Linked DNA regions of Homo sapiens. The protein of the gene in region 2 interacts with the protein of the main gene of each other region in a pairwise test. Each region holds a gene or a part of one and is shown on either strand. Other genes may lie near its edges.

What was found. The genes of interacting proteins can lie anywhere in the genome.
Region 1: the proteins of FAM167A (region 2) and PRKCG interact in binary tests that used the Homo sapiens proteins (3 or more experiments, as listed by UniProt).

Annotation. Positions count from the first base shown.
Region 1 is NC_000019.10:53,892,169-53,899,202, forward strand, and holds part of PRKCG (protein kinase C gamma type), read left to right. Parts: intron 1-340; coding exon 341-475; intron 476-819; coding exon 820-907; intron 908-1,193; coding exon 1,194-1,223; intron 1,224-5,790; coding exon 5,791-5,943; intron 5,944-6,271; coding exon 6,272-6,460; intron 6,461-7,034. UniProt on the Homo sapiens protein: Calcium-activated, phospholipid- and diacylglycerol (DAG)-dependent serine/threonine-protein kinase that plays diverse roles in neuronal cells and eye tissues, such as regulation of the neuronal receptors GRIA4/GLUR4 and GRIN1/NMDAR1, modulation of receptors and neuronal functions related to sensitivity to opiates, pain and alcohol, mediation of synaptic function and cell survival after ischemia, and inhibition of gap junction activity after oxidative stress.
Region 2 is NC_000008.11:11,456,754-11,463,753, reverse strand, and holds part of FAM167A (protein FAM167A), read left to right. Parts: intron 1-7,000.

The DNA of each region.
Region 1 (7,034 bases), on a different chromosome or scaffold from region 2:
AGACAGAGATCAGTTGACAGGAAGACAGAGTGATAGAGACCCAGAGAGGAGAGAAGGGTACAGAGACTCAGAGAGAGAGATCTCGAGAGACAAGAGACAGAGATGGGAAGGGGCGGAGAATGCAGGAGGAAGGGAGAGGAAGAGCTCTCTAGGTTTACTTCAGGCCCCAAAGCCCTAGCTGGAGAGAGAGCCCGGCTGGGAAGGTCAGAGGTCGGAGACCGACAAAGCAGGAGAGGAGCCCCAGCTGGCTGGGTTTGCCCCCACCTCCAGCACCAAGGATGGGGAACCGAGGGGAGCCATGAGCTCGGCTCTGCACCCCATCCACCCCACCTTCCTGCAGCAACCTGAAGCCAGGGGATGTGGAGCGCCGGCTCAGCGTGGAGGTGTGGGACTGGGACCGGACCTCCCGCAACGACTTCATGGGGGCCATGTCCTTTGGCGTCTCGGAGCTGCTCAAGGCGCCCGTGGATGGCTGGTGAGGAGCAGGGCTGGGGCCTGGGGATGGAGCGCAATATTACCATCTCCATCTGTGTGTGGTCTCTCTCCTCCAGGCCACTGTCCTTCCCTCTGCCTCCCAGCATGCGCACACACACACACACACACACACACACACGCACACACACGCACACACCCCTCTCTCTCTATTCTTCTCTTCTTCTCCCCTCCCTTTCTCCCTCTCCCTCTCTTTTTATCTCACTCTTTCTCTCTTCCATCTCTGTGTCCGTCTCTCTGTGTCTCTTTCCTCCCTTCCAATGTCTTTGCCTCTCCCATGGGTGCCCCATCCCCGCTGCCCGCCTCTGGTCTCCGTCTGTATGTCAGGTACAAGTTACTGAACCAGGAGGAGGGCGAGTATTACAATGTGCCGGTGGCCGATGCTGACAACTGCAGCCTCCTCCAGAAGTTTGAGGTACCCAGACCCTGGCTTCCTCAAGGGAGCCCAGCCCAGCCTCCCACGGTTCAGAGCTGGCCTTTCCTTCCACCCCTGAGTGCCCGCTGGTCCTGGGACTACAGTTCCCAGAAGACCCTAGGACTCCCTCCTCTGCTCTTCTAGGGGACTCGAGCCCCAGGGTCTGATGGGAATTATAGTTCCTATCTATCGCCATGGCTTGAGGGTACTAGGGGCCACCAGCCCCTGTTCTAGGGCGATCCCCTGCATCTCTTGGGACCCTGACTCTCTCTTTCTTTTCTCCCAGGCTTGTAACTACCCCCTGGAATTGTATGAGGTGAGTAGAACCAGGGCGTTGAATGGAGGCAGTTTTTGCCTACTTCTCTGATTTCTTATTCCTCCTCTGACTTCTGTCTTCAATTCCCCACACATGAGTTGAGCACACATTTGTGCTAGGCCTGTCTTGTGCTTGCTGAATAATCCAGGATCCAGAGATGAATCTGACCCTCAAGCAACTCTCCAAGGTAGGGACACAGTCACAGATACTTAAAATACAGGAAGATGTGCTAAATTAGAGGTAGCCCAGGGCACTGAAGAGGCCTAACGGAGGCACTAATCCAGCCTGGGGGAGGGTGGTCAGGGAGGACTTCCCTGAGGAGGTGACGCCTGAATTGATTCTTGAGGTTTTTTAAAATTTTTTAATTTATTTTTATTTTTATTTTTATTTTTATTTCTGTCGCCCAGGCTGGAGTGCAATGGCACAATCTCGCCTCACTGCAACCTCCAGCTCCCGGGTTCAAGCAATTCTCTTGCCTCAGCCTCCTGAGTAGCTGGGATTACAGGTGACCGCCACCACACCCAGCTAATTTTTTTTTTATTTTTAGTAGAGATGGGATTTCGCCATGTTGGCCAGGCTGATCTCAAACTCCCAAACTCAGGTGATCCGCCTGCCTTGGCCTCCCAAAGTGCTGGGATTACAGGCATGAGCCACTGCGCCCGACCGATTCTTGAGTTTTTTATTTTTTTTTTGAGACGGAGTCTCGCTGTGACGCCCAGGCTGGAGTGCAGTGGTGCGATCTCGGCTCACTGCAAGCTCCGCCTCCTGGGTTCACGCCATTCTCCTGCATCAGCCTCCTGAGTAGCTGGGACTACAGGCGCCCACCACCATGCCCGGCTAATTTTTTGTATTTTTAGTAGAGATGGGGTTTCACCGTGTTAGCCAGGATGGTCTCGATCTCCTGACCTGGTGATCCACCCGCCTCAGCCTCCCAAAGTGCTGGGATTACAGGCGTGAGCCACCACACCCAGCCGATTCTTGAGTTTTAAAAAATCTATCAAGCATGATCATCTTAATCTCTCCATTCATTCATTCACTCACTGAATATCCTTCTTTTTCTTTCTTTCTTTCTTTCTTTTTTTTTTTGAGACAGAATCTCCTTTTGTCACCCAGGTTGGAGTGCAGTGATGCAGTCTCAGCTCACTGCAACCTCTGCCTCCCAGATTCAAGTGATTCTCCTGCCTCAGCCTCCTGAGTAGTTGGGATTACAGGAGCGCACCACCACACCTGGCTAATTTTTGTATTTTTAGTAGAGATGGGGTTTCGACATGTTGGCCAGGCTGGTCTCGAACTCCTGACCTCAAGTGATCCACCCGCCTTGGCCTCCCAAAGCGCTGAGATTAGAGGCGTGAGCGACCACGCCCAGACGAATACCCATTTTCTAGGGTGTCATAAGCCAGGCCCTGTTCTGGGAATAGAATCAGGCCATTCCCTGGTGGAGCTCTTCTTCTAGTGGAGGACAAAGTTACAAACCCAGACATTCACAACGAGGAGCAATGCTGCTGTAATGGAGACAGCCTCAGGCACTGGGGCGTCCCTGGCACAGCCTGAGTCAGAGAAAGCTTCCTAGAGAGGTGAGACCTGGTAGAAGGGCGGGATTTCCCAAAGGAGAGACCAGATTTTCAGGCAGGAGGAAGTAATGCTCTCTCCCTCATTTACCCTTTCAAAAAATACTTTACAGAGCATCTTTGTGTGCCAGGCGTGGCTCTACTCACTGGGGATATAGAGAAAGCAGGGAAAGAACAAACAAACAAACAAAAAAGTTCCTTTCCTTATGGGATTTACACCGGGAGGAAGACATTAAACAAAATATATAAGCATATGATAGACTGGGCACGATGCCTCATGTCTGTGATCCTAGTAAGGCGGGCGGATCACCTGAGGTCAGGAGTTTGAGACCAGCCTGGCCAGCGTGGCAAAACCCCATCTCTACTAAAAAATACAAAAATCAGCTGGGCATGGTGGAGGCGCCTGTAATCCCAGCTACTCGGAAGGCTGAGGCAGGAGAATTGCTGGATTCCGGGAAGTAGAGGCTGCAGTGAGCCCAGATCGCTCCACTGCACTCCAGCCTGGATGACAGAGGGAGACTCTGTCTCAAAAAAAAAAAAAAAAAAAAAGAAGACAAGAATCTTCAAGATTCAACAACAGCAACAACATGTTATAGTCTTTACTGGACTCTTACAGAAACTTTCACCAGAGTTTTTAATGTTGTGTGTGGGGGTTCACCTGCATCAGAATTCCTAGAGTGCTTGCTTTTAAAAGCACATTCCCCAGCCTTTCTGCAGACCTACTCAGTGACGATCTCTCTGATGCCTCAAATGTCTGCCTACTAAATTAATTCCTCAGGTGATCCTTTTGCAAAGTTAAGTTTGAGAATGGGCTCTGCGGCCGGGCGCAGTGGCTCACGCCTGTCATCCCAGCACTTTGGGAGGCCAAGGCGGGTGGATCACGAGGTCAGGAGATCGAGACCATCCTGGCTAACACGGTGAATCCCCGTCTCTACTAAAAATACAAAAAAATTAGCTGGGCGTGGTGGTGGGTGCCTGTAGTCCCAGGTACTCAGGAGGCTGAGGCAGGAGAATGGCATGAACCTGGGAGGTGGAGCTTGCAATGAGCCGAGATCGTGCCACTGCACTACAGCCTGGGTGACAGAGCGAGACTCTATCTCAGAAAAAAAAAAAAAAGAGAGAATGGGCTCTGCAGGAGACAAGGGTACCAGCGGGAGGACATTCTGAGCCAAAGAGGTAGAGTCTTTTGAGATCAGCAGGGATGATCCTCCCGTACAAACCCAAGAAACCCAGCAGGGCAGATGGTGGGCAAAGGCCTAGAGGCAGGGAGTGTAGGGTGGTGTGTGTGCCTGTTGTGGCTCACAGCACTCTCCCACAGTTCAGCAGGCACCACTTAATATTACCAATGAACACCAACTCTGTGCCAAGCCTTGAGCTAGGTACGGGGCTAACAACACAGCAAACAGAAACAGCCCTGATTATTATTATTATTATTATTATTATTATTATTATTATTATTATTATGTATTTATCTATTTGAGACACAGTCTCGCTCTGTCGCCCAGGCTGGAATGCAGTGGAGCGATCTCAGCTCACTGCAACCTCTGCCTCCCGGGTTCAAGCGATTCTCCTGCCTTGGCCTCCCAAGTAGCTGGGACTACAGGCATGTGCCACCATGTCCTACTAATTTTTATATTGCTAGTAGAGATGGGGCTTCGCCATGTTGGCCAGGCTGGTCTTGAACTCCTGACCTCAGGTGATCTGCCCACCTCGGCCTCCCAAAGTGCTGGGATTACAGGCATGAGCCACCGCACCCAGCCCTCAACAAATATTTATGTAGCCTCAATGAGGTAGGCAGTGTTACTGTGTCTTAGCGAACAAAGCAGACCCCTGCCTTAGGGAGCTCACAGGCAGAAAGCAGATAGTCACACAGATAGATGTAAATTACTAAGAATAAAAGTGCCAGGAAGGTGCTGTCCATGGTGACCAAGGGGTGGTAAGAGAGGCATCTGACCCAGTTTAAAAAGTCAGGCGAGGCCTCTATGAAGTGATGCTTGAGTCAAGGTCTAAAGGGTGTTTGGGAGACAACTAGGAGGGAAGGGGAGGGGAGAGCTTTACAGGAAGACCTAACGGCACATCCAGAGGCCCTGAGGTGGGAGGGAGGACAATGAGTGTCAGGCCAGGGTGGCTGGACCATGGAGCCTGGGAGAGAGAAGAACAACCTGCAGTGTCAGTCTCAGCCTGGCTCTGCAAGTCATGTGGAATAAAATCTTAACACAGAGGGAGCAGTTAAAGGGTTTACAAGCATAGGGGAGACATGACCTGGTTTATTTATTTTTAAATTGGCTCCTGTGCCTGCTGAGTAGAGAATGCATTAGAAAGGGCAGCCGTCCATGTAGAGGGACAAGTGTGGAAGCTGTGACAGCAGCTTAGTCTTGGGCCCCCTCCCTGGGGGGCCGAGGCAGGAAAAGGTAGAGAAGGGACCCTAGCTGAAAGCCAGGTGTGCTCCCTGGACTGGCAGCACCCATGTCACCCAGAAGCTTTTTACACATAACGATTCTCAGGTCCCACCCCAGATTTATAGAGTTAGAAAATCTGGCAGTGGGACCCAGCAATCTGTTTTACCAAACCCTCTAGGGAATTCCGGCTTAGAGGCTAAGAGCAACCAGATTCTAGAGCTGGACTGCTTGGGTTTCATTTCTGGCTCTGTCCTTTACCTGCTGTGTGACTTGGGGCAAGTTACTTAACGTCTCTGTGCTAGTCTCCTCTTCTGTAAAATGGAAACGATAGCAGGGTTTTCTGGAAACAGCATATGATAAGCTATCTAAAAAAAAAAAAGAAGAAAAAAAGAGCTAAGTGTTTGTTGAATAATAAATAAACCCTCCAGGCTATGGGGAGTCAGAGAAAATTAAGCCAAGGACAGGGTAGGAGGGTGGCCATTTTCCTCTGTCTAGCGATTCTCATCCTTTCCTTTCTTGGGTGCTGTGTCTCTTGGGAGCATTTCCTTATCGCTGTGTAAGGTCTAACTGCCTCTGGCTCTTTCTTTCTCCTTTCCACAGCGGGTGCGGATGGGCCCCTCTTCCTCTCCCATCCCCTCCCCTTCCCCTAGTCCCACCGACCCCAAGCGCTGCTTCTTCGGGGCGAGTCCAGGACGCCTGCACATCTCCGACTTCAGCTTCCTCATGGTTCTAGGAAAAGGCAGTTTTGGGAAGGTTGGATTCCTGGGGTTCTGGGGGAAAGGGAGGATGTCTGTGGGAAGGTCAGATTTCTGGTTCTTAGGGAGGAAGTGGGGGTGGGAAGAGACTGGGCTCCTGCATCTTCAAATATGGTTAGGTTGGGCCGTTCAGGTTCCTGGAGAGGAGAGGTTTACAGATGTGGACACTCTCCTTGAGGGGACGGGCGGCAAGTCAGGGCTGTCAGTCCCTTAAGAGATGGAGGAAGGGCCTGGGATCCCGTTTCCCTGCGTCCCTTAGGGAGGGGGCAGGTCCTGTACCACTGGGTTCCCAACATGGACTGGCCCTTTTGGAACTGTGCGCATAGGTGATGCTGGCCGAGCGCAGGGGCTCTGATGAGCTCTACGCCATCAAGATCTTGAAAAAGGACGTGATCGTCCAGGACGACGATGTGGACTGCACGCTGGTGGAGAAACGTGTGCTGGCGCTGGGGGGCCGGGGTCCTGGCGGCCGGCCCCACTTCCTCACCCAGCTCCACTCCACCTTCCAGACCCCGGTAAGGATGGAGGGGGCGGAGGCTGTCCTCCGGGCCCTGCCTTATCCAGTTCTGGACATCTGCGTTGGGATTCTGAGTTTAGGGCGAGGCAAGAGAACTTTGTGCTCTCTGAGTGGGCGAGGCCAGGCGGATTGTCTCCTCAGGGGGCGTGGCCGGGGGGGGGTCCTTGGGGGGCGTGGCCAGGCGAAGGGACTCATCGGGGGGCGTGGCCAGGCGGAGGGGCTCAACGGAGGCGAGGCCGGGTGGAGGGGCTCCTCGGGGGCGTGGCCAGGTGGAGGGACTCATCGGGGGCGTGGCCAGGCAGAGGGGCTCTTCGCGGGGCGTGGTCAGGCGGATGAAATCTTTGGGGGGGTGGTTTAGAGGGGCGGGCTTTGTCAGGCGATGGGATCATTAATAGGCGTGGCCAGGCAGATTGGCTCCTTGGGGGCGAGGCCAGGCAGACGAGATTATGAATGAGCGTATCCAGGCAGGTAGATTCTTCGGAGGGCGTGGTCGGGCGGATGAGCTCCTCGGGGGCGTGGCCAGGCGGTGAGTTCCTCGGTGGCATGGCCTGGCCAGGTGAATGGGTCCTGCG
Region 2 (7,000 bases):
GGACCAAGCCCCCATTTCTTCAGTGTGGCCGGAAGTTCCCTCCAGGGCATCCTGATCCAAAGGTGGAAGCTGGCAGTAGATGCCCAAGGGCTCCCTCGCAGGGCTTGTCCCTTGGGCATCCCTAGAGGGACAGGCCCAGGTCAGACCCCATTTTCCAGGTCCAGTGGCAGGTATGGAAAGAGCCTAGGCAGTGACTTGTGCACTGGCTACAGTTCCAGGCCTTCTCGAAGGCTGGGCAGTGTTTCCTCATTCCAGGAAGCCAGCGGAGCCTCTGCGAGCTGGCTGGGCACAGCAGCCCCTAGGTCAGCAGGCTCATGCTTAGGGTGGTGGCCACCCAGGAAGGTTCTGGATGAGGGTCTTTGCCTTAGGGACCTGGCCCCCACTGTCCACCATCAAGTTGAAAGTGACACTACCTCCCTAGTCTTGTGATCAGCTCCACGCACTTCGCCCTGGAAGTCCCATGCCAGGCGTGAACTGACCTAAGTCCCTCCAGTCACAAAGGCACTTCCCAAATTTGGTTGTGTGGCTGCTGCTATTTTGTTTATTTGTTTGATAGCAGCCACTGAAAACTTGGAGGAAGGTGAAGCCAGCCTCATTATCAAGTTTGAATGAAAGCAGCCTCAGAGCAAATTCTGCCAGACGTACACATTTTTGGACAAATATTTACCTGAAACAAGTCCAGCGGAGTCCATACAGCCTGTCCTGTGGGCTCGGTGAAGCCCAGCAATCTGCTCTCTGCTGCCCTGACCACACCTCCCTGGAGCTCTCATGGATTCTTTTACCTGCTCTTTCCTGAGTCAAGAGTGTCTCTGAATTCATTTAGCCAACCCACACATCTTGAATACCTCTGTCTTTACCAATGAGAACGCATTTCTAATATTTACTTTGCTAATCATCAAATGCCCAATGCTGACCAGAGATAAAGACGCTGAAGTGCCTGTCCCTGCTGCCTCTGGAGCAGATGCTTTCTGCTTCGAGGCAGTGGCTGCGAGTGGGGTAGGGGTGGGCGTTGCTGATTTGAATACATCTAGGTTGTAGCTGGCATAATGAAACCACACAGAACAGCCCACCATCTCTGCAAAGGAGTTTAGGATCCAAATGCACCACCCTACCAAGGAAGCAGAAGGTGAAGGCCGTGCCCTCAGGGAGCGTGCAGTCTGGCGAGGTTGCTGATGCAGTAGAGTCCTGAGCTCACAGTAAAATGCTGTTCTGCACGCTTCAGTTAACTTTCGCAGTGCAGGAGCCATTTCCCAATTCGATGGACCAAGGAGAGTGACAGCCAAGCACAGTCAAGAGCAGGAGGTGACAGTCGTATTAGAGGTGTAACTAAAAATTCACGTAAACTTGATCTCATTTGGTCCTTCCAAGACTGTGAGGTACGATCCATTACAATCCTGTTTCATGGATGTGGAACCTAGGCCTAGGAGGGTTGAATCTGTTGATCAAGGTCATAGAACTAGTAAGTGGCAGGCTGGCTGTCAACCAACCCACGTCCCCCGACACCCGGCTCTGCCCTGTTCTAACTTGCTCCATCCCTTTCTCCTGCTCCTGATTCCTTTCCTCTGCGAGGTGTGAACCCGGGAGGCTTCAGCAGCCAAGTACCTCCAGCGCAAGCTGACACGGCAGGGAAGCAAAGTCACACATCCCATTTTCTGCCCTGCCTGCGGGCACTCAGGCCATATGTCCCTGCCAAACCCCAGTGCAGGCACAGCGCTGCACCTGCAGCCACTTACAGGCTGCACTGGGCAGTCCAAGCCAGGCTGAGGCCACACTGGGACCCCACTGCGTCCAAACACCAGGAAACCCTAAGGACCCTTCTAGCCCCTGAGAGGTCAGGACCCCCAGCCCGAACGTGGAGGTGCCCAGTTGGCATAAGCACAGGGAACACCGTGAAAGGCCTTACGAAGCCTTTTAGAAACTCTGGGCTTTGGAACTTGTGCTGCAGAGTAAAATAGAAATCAGATCATCTGGACAAATCCCCCCTTGAGCTGGCGTTTGTTGATTCTGCCTATTTTCAACTTGGAGCCAATTATCCTGTGGATTCAAATAGTCCTAGATCTGCCTTGTTTGGAGGCTGAGGCCAATGCCAGCTGGTTAGGAGCCACTCTGGTGGGCTGAAGCCACAGGGGAGGGCACACATCCCCCGTGTCCTTAGCTGTGCCCTGGTGTCTGAGTTTCAGCCAGCTGGGAAGTGTTTCCTGTTTGTATAGCCAGGGTACCGGCCTGCGCTGCATTCTGCTTTCATCTCTGCAGATTGCTTTAAAGGCCACTCTGTGTCTACTTTCTGCCCTCTAATCCCCACTGCCACCATGGCCTTTGGCCAGAAAAGCCCTGGGTCTCATGTGGCGGTTGGCGGGGCGGCAGCAGGCTGCCTTAGCCCGTCTGGGCATCCCTGCCTTGTCGAGCGTTTCCCGGGAGGAAAACCACATCCTTCTCTTTTTTTCCCATGGCTACTTTCCCCCTCCCCATCTCCTCCAAACTGTCAGATTCTCAGGCACCTCTTCCTGCCTGCCAGGGCCGCCCTTTCCCAGAGCCCCGCAGCCTTGGAAGGGACACACCAGCGACTGGGCGTCCCAAGAGCCCCTCTCCCTGCAGTGGCCCTGGGCTTTCTCCCCGCCTTGCAGGGAGCCCATAAATTAGATCTGTGGCTCCCAGGAGCCAGGGCCTCTTTCTGACCAACAGGGAAGCAGTATTTCTTGGCAATTTTCTCAGCAGCCTCTTTCACCGGGCTAAATGAAAAGGAAGGTTTCCGCGCTCCCAGCCTTCCTGCAGGAGGACTGTGCGTCAGCTTGAAGCAGCCTGAGCCCATCAATTATTCAGCATGGACCCAGCACTTTGAATTTGCAAAGGTCTTAAGTATTTTTATAGATTCTTTTCTCATAATGTCCCAGCGAGACAAGCAAGGTTTCCCTGTTTCCTAGACAATAGATGCAGGGTTCAACTCGGAGTCAGAAGACTTGGGTGCAAGCGCAGCCAGCGCCACTCATGGAGCTGTGGGACCTGGGGCAGTTCTTTCGATGGCTCTGGTGTGCAGTTCTCTGTGGTATAATTCTTAGGAAGGCCTCCCTAGCCCAGGTCATTGTGTGTGTGGGGAAAAAAATTTGCAAATGCAGTGTGATTAAAAAATGCATGTGGTTGCTCTTGTTGCACCAGGTGTGGAAACGGAAGCTTCTATCCTGAGCTGAAGTGCAACCATTAGCATAGGACACTGCAAACCGGGCTCTGCTGGGAGACAGTCCCCAGGGAAACGTGGGCGAGTCGGCGCCTCTACTCCCTGGCCCCGTGGGGGTGGCTCCATGACATGGTGGTCCCACTACCTGCTGCTGTGGGCTGACTCTGCATGTGTCAGGGTGGAAGAGGGCACGGAGGTCATCACACCCAAACCAATGGCTTAGGGTGGGATGGGACCCCAGTAGCTGACTCCCAGGTCGGGAACTCTTTTCTCTTCCACACCAGGCTGGCTCTGTCCAAAATGTTTCTCCCGCTCCCATCGGCAATGCTGGGACCCCAGGCAGGAGGCACCGAGGGCTGCCTAAAGCCGGAGTGTTAGGGCAATCTACGGGTGCAGCCCACTAGGGCGCCTGCCCCTCCCAGAGCCCTGTAGTGGGTTTCATGCCATGTACCCATCCTCTCACACTGGTGGCCCCAGCATCACAGCTGTCCCTGGGACTGGCCCAGGAGCCACCTCCATCAACCAAAACAAGCAGACAAATGAAATGAGTCCCTGGCCTGGTGCGGTGGCTCACGCCTGTAATCGCAGCACTTTGGGAGGCCGAGGCAGGCAGATCACCTGATGTCAGGAGTTCAAGACCAGCCTGGCCAATATGGTGAAACCCCGTCTCTACTAAAAATACAAAAATTAGCCAGGTGTGGTGGTGGGTGTGGTGGTGGGTGCCTGTAATCCCAGCTACTCAGGAGGCTGAGGCAGGAGAATCACTTGAACCTTGGGAAGCAGAGTTTGCAGTAAGCCGAGGTCGTGCCGCTGCATTCCAGCCTGGGTGAGAAGAGCAAAACTCTGTCTCAAAAAAAGAAAAGAAATGAAATGAATCCCTGTTCCAGTTGAATTCCAAAGAGTCGTGTGACTTGTCCAGCGTCACAGGTTGTTAATGGCAGAACTTCCCTTAGGCTGAGGTCCCCTCACTGCCCAGCCCTGCCCAAGGACTAAGACCCCAGCCCCGGAAAGAGGCCCTCCTGCCACAGCAGCTGTACTCACAGCACCCACGTGCTTGGCACTGCAGACCGAGGCGCTCGGTCTCTTCTTCCTCTTCTGCCCAGAACAATTTTACAGAAAAACAAAGCATTGCCTTGGGAATATTTCAGTGTTATTTGCCCCTGAGGTTTCTAGGAACACTGGACTTGTAAGTACTATAAAGCTCACATGCCTGTTACTTCTGTGCAAATGGAGCCACCTGAAAGATGGTCACAATGGTGGAGTTGGGGAGACTTGAGCTGGAATGGTGGTTCCTTCCCTGACCTGCTTGTGAACTGTGGTTTCCTTGCCTGCAGTAGAGATAATACGAGACACTAGATAATACCAGTCATGCCTCAGGGTCATTTCAAGGGCTAAACTAGATATTGCACAGTGCCTGGCACAATAAAAAAGGTCTCCTCTTTTCCTCCTCCTTCTAACAATTTTCATTTATTTCTGTATAAATGAGAAATAGAGAAATGGGTGATAGAGAGAAAAGTAGTCATTCATGCGTTTATTTTATTATCAGAAAGTATGTGTTGAAGTTGTACTGGTTATACCCAGCAGGTGGCCATGAGCAGCAGGGGGAAGAACTGGGGGCGAATTCGCCCTCCTGAAGCCCAGGCTAGTGTGGGCAGTGCCGTTCCAGCCTCTCTTGATGGCAAGAGAATCTTCTGGTGCATTTCACTGGGAAGTTCAGCTCTTTAGGTTCTGCTGGGCCTAAGGGCTCAGAAGATGTCAGGATGCTCTCTCTTTCTCTCTCTTTCTGTTTTTTTTTTCCCTTAGTTCGCCTTACCTCAGGCTTATTCCCTTTTTACTACAGACGGGCTTTCTCCAGACTCTGGAAACTCCAAGCTTATATCCTCCCAGCTGAGCTGCTCCTGATGAAAATACCCTATTTCTCCAAGTGTCTGTGTTTAAATCCCATGAAAATATTCTGATTGGTCTTTTGTGGCCCATTGCACATCCCCAGGCCCAGTCACTATTGCCAGAGTAAGGGCTAAAATGAACGTCTCTTTCTAGGTGTCGTGAGTGTTCCTGGGGCAGGGGTGATGGGCAGGTGCTGTGACTCATGGTCCCTTCAGAACCACCTGAAATTAGACAGGAGTGATGCCCACAGAAGGGATGCTGGAAAAAGATAGATCTGTTCACCCGAGAGGCACATCAGAAATGTGACTCAGTAAAACCATCCAGCAGGTGCACTGCTGCACTGAGAGTGGGCAGGAAAGTGCTCAGATCCAAGTGTGAAGGGAGGAAGCCATCAGCTCCATTCGGAAGAGCACAAAAGACTGTCGAGTGAGGTGCTGTTTGATCCAGGCTTGAAGACTGAGTCAAATTCAAACATAAGGCTATCGCGGAAGGATGAGACATAAAGTTGAGACCAGCATCCCAAACCACCCCATCTCAACTCAAGAAAGATGACTCAGCCACCAGAAGCATTCTGACTTTGAAAGTCTTACCCATGAAGCTGTGGGAGGTCTGCTGGGGAGATGTCATCTGGAGCTGTGAACGACTCTGGCTGGACTTTGTTCGCTGACTTCACCGCATCAGCGTCATCAGCACACACTGAACATCTGCTGTTTACAGGGCCCTGTGCTCGGGACACAAAAGGTGCAGCAGTGTCCTGCCCCTCAAGGAGCTGATGTCTGGTCAGGAAGACAGGACCACAGACTCCCACAGTTCAAGGTCATGCGGGCCAGTGTGCAGTCAGCATGAGGAAAGCAAGTGACTGGAGAATTCAGAGAAAGGTGGCCTGGAAGGTGGGGAGTGTGAGAGGGCTTCAGGGAGGAGGCGAGCCCTCGGATGAGCTTTCAGGCAGTGCAGGGCCTAGCTCGCCAGTGAGGGCCAAAGACAAGGACAAAGGGCCAGATGGACTGCCCAGAAAGTCCTCTTCATTCATTCATGTACCCACTCTCTTACTCAGCAAGTTTCCTGAGCACCCGCTGTGTGCCGGGCACTGCTCTGAGTGCCGGGGTCACAGTCAGGAACAGAATTCGGAAGCCCCTGCCTGCTAGGAGCTGGCATCCTCAAGGGTGGGACACACAGACACCAACAAACATCACGGAGTAAGTGATGAGCTCCGGAAGCACCAGGAAGGCGAGCGCTGGGCTCCATCCTGTGGCCCAGGCTGGGGTTTGCGTGGAGATGAGGTTCAAGCAGAACCAGGCATGAAGCAGCCAGCATATGACATTGTGGCACAGCATCAATGTCCTTCAGAAGAGACTGCCGAGTTCTCACAAGGGTGTGCAGCAGGGAGGGGAAACCCCGGCAGCAAACAGGAGGCTTCCAGGAAGGGGGAAGGCTAGTGCTGTCCTGGCTGGACATGTGCCAGAGGGAATGCTTACCCGGCAGGGTAGACCACAGGGGTGCTTGGAGAAAACCCCAGGAGCGCTGTCCTGTGGAGCCCTGATCCCACCCACACCCCTAACCCAGCCCCGCCCACTTCCCCAACCCAGCCCCGCCCATTTCCCCAACCCAGCCCCGCCCACTTCCCCAACCCAGCCCCACCCACTTCCTTAACCCAGCCCCGCCCATACCCCTAACCCAGCCCCGCCCACTTCCCTAACCCAGCCCCACCTACATCCCTAACCCAGCCCCGCCCACTTCCCTAACCCAGCCCCGCTCATACCCCTAATCCAGCCCCACCCACTTCCCGAACCCAATCCCCCCATTTCCCTAACCCAGGGCCCAACTCACTTCCCTAACTCAGCCCTGCCCACTTCCCTAACCCAGCCCCACCCACGTCCCTAACCCAGCCCCACTCACTTCCCTTAGCCAGCCGCACTCCCCTAATCCAGCACCACCCACGTC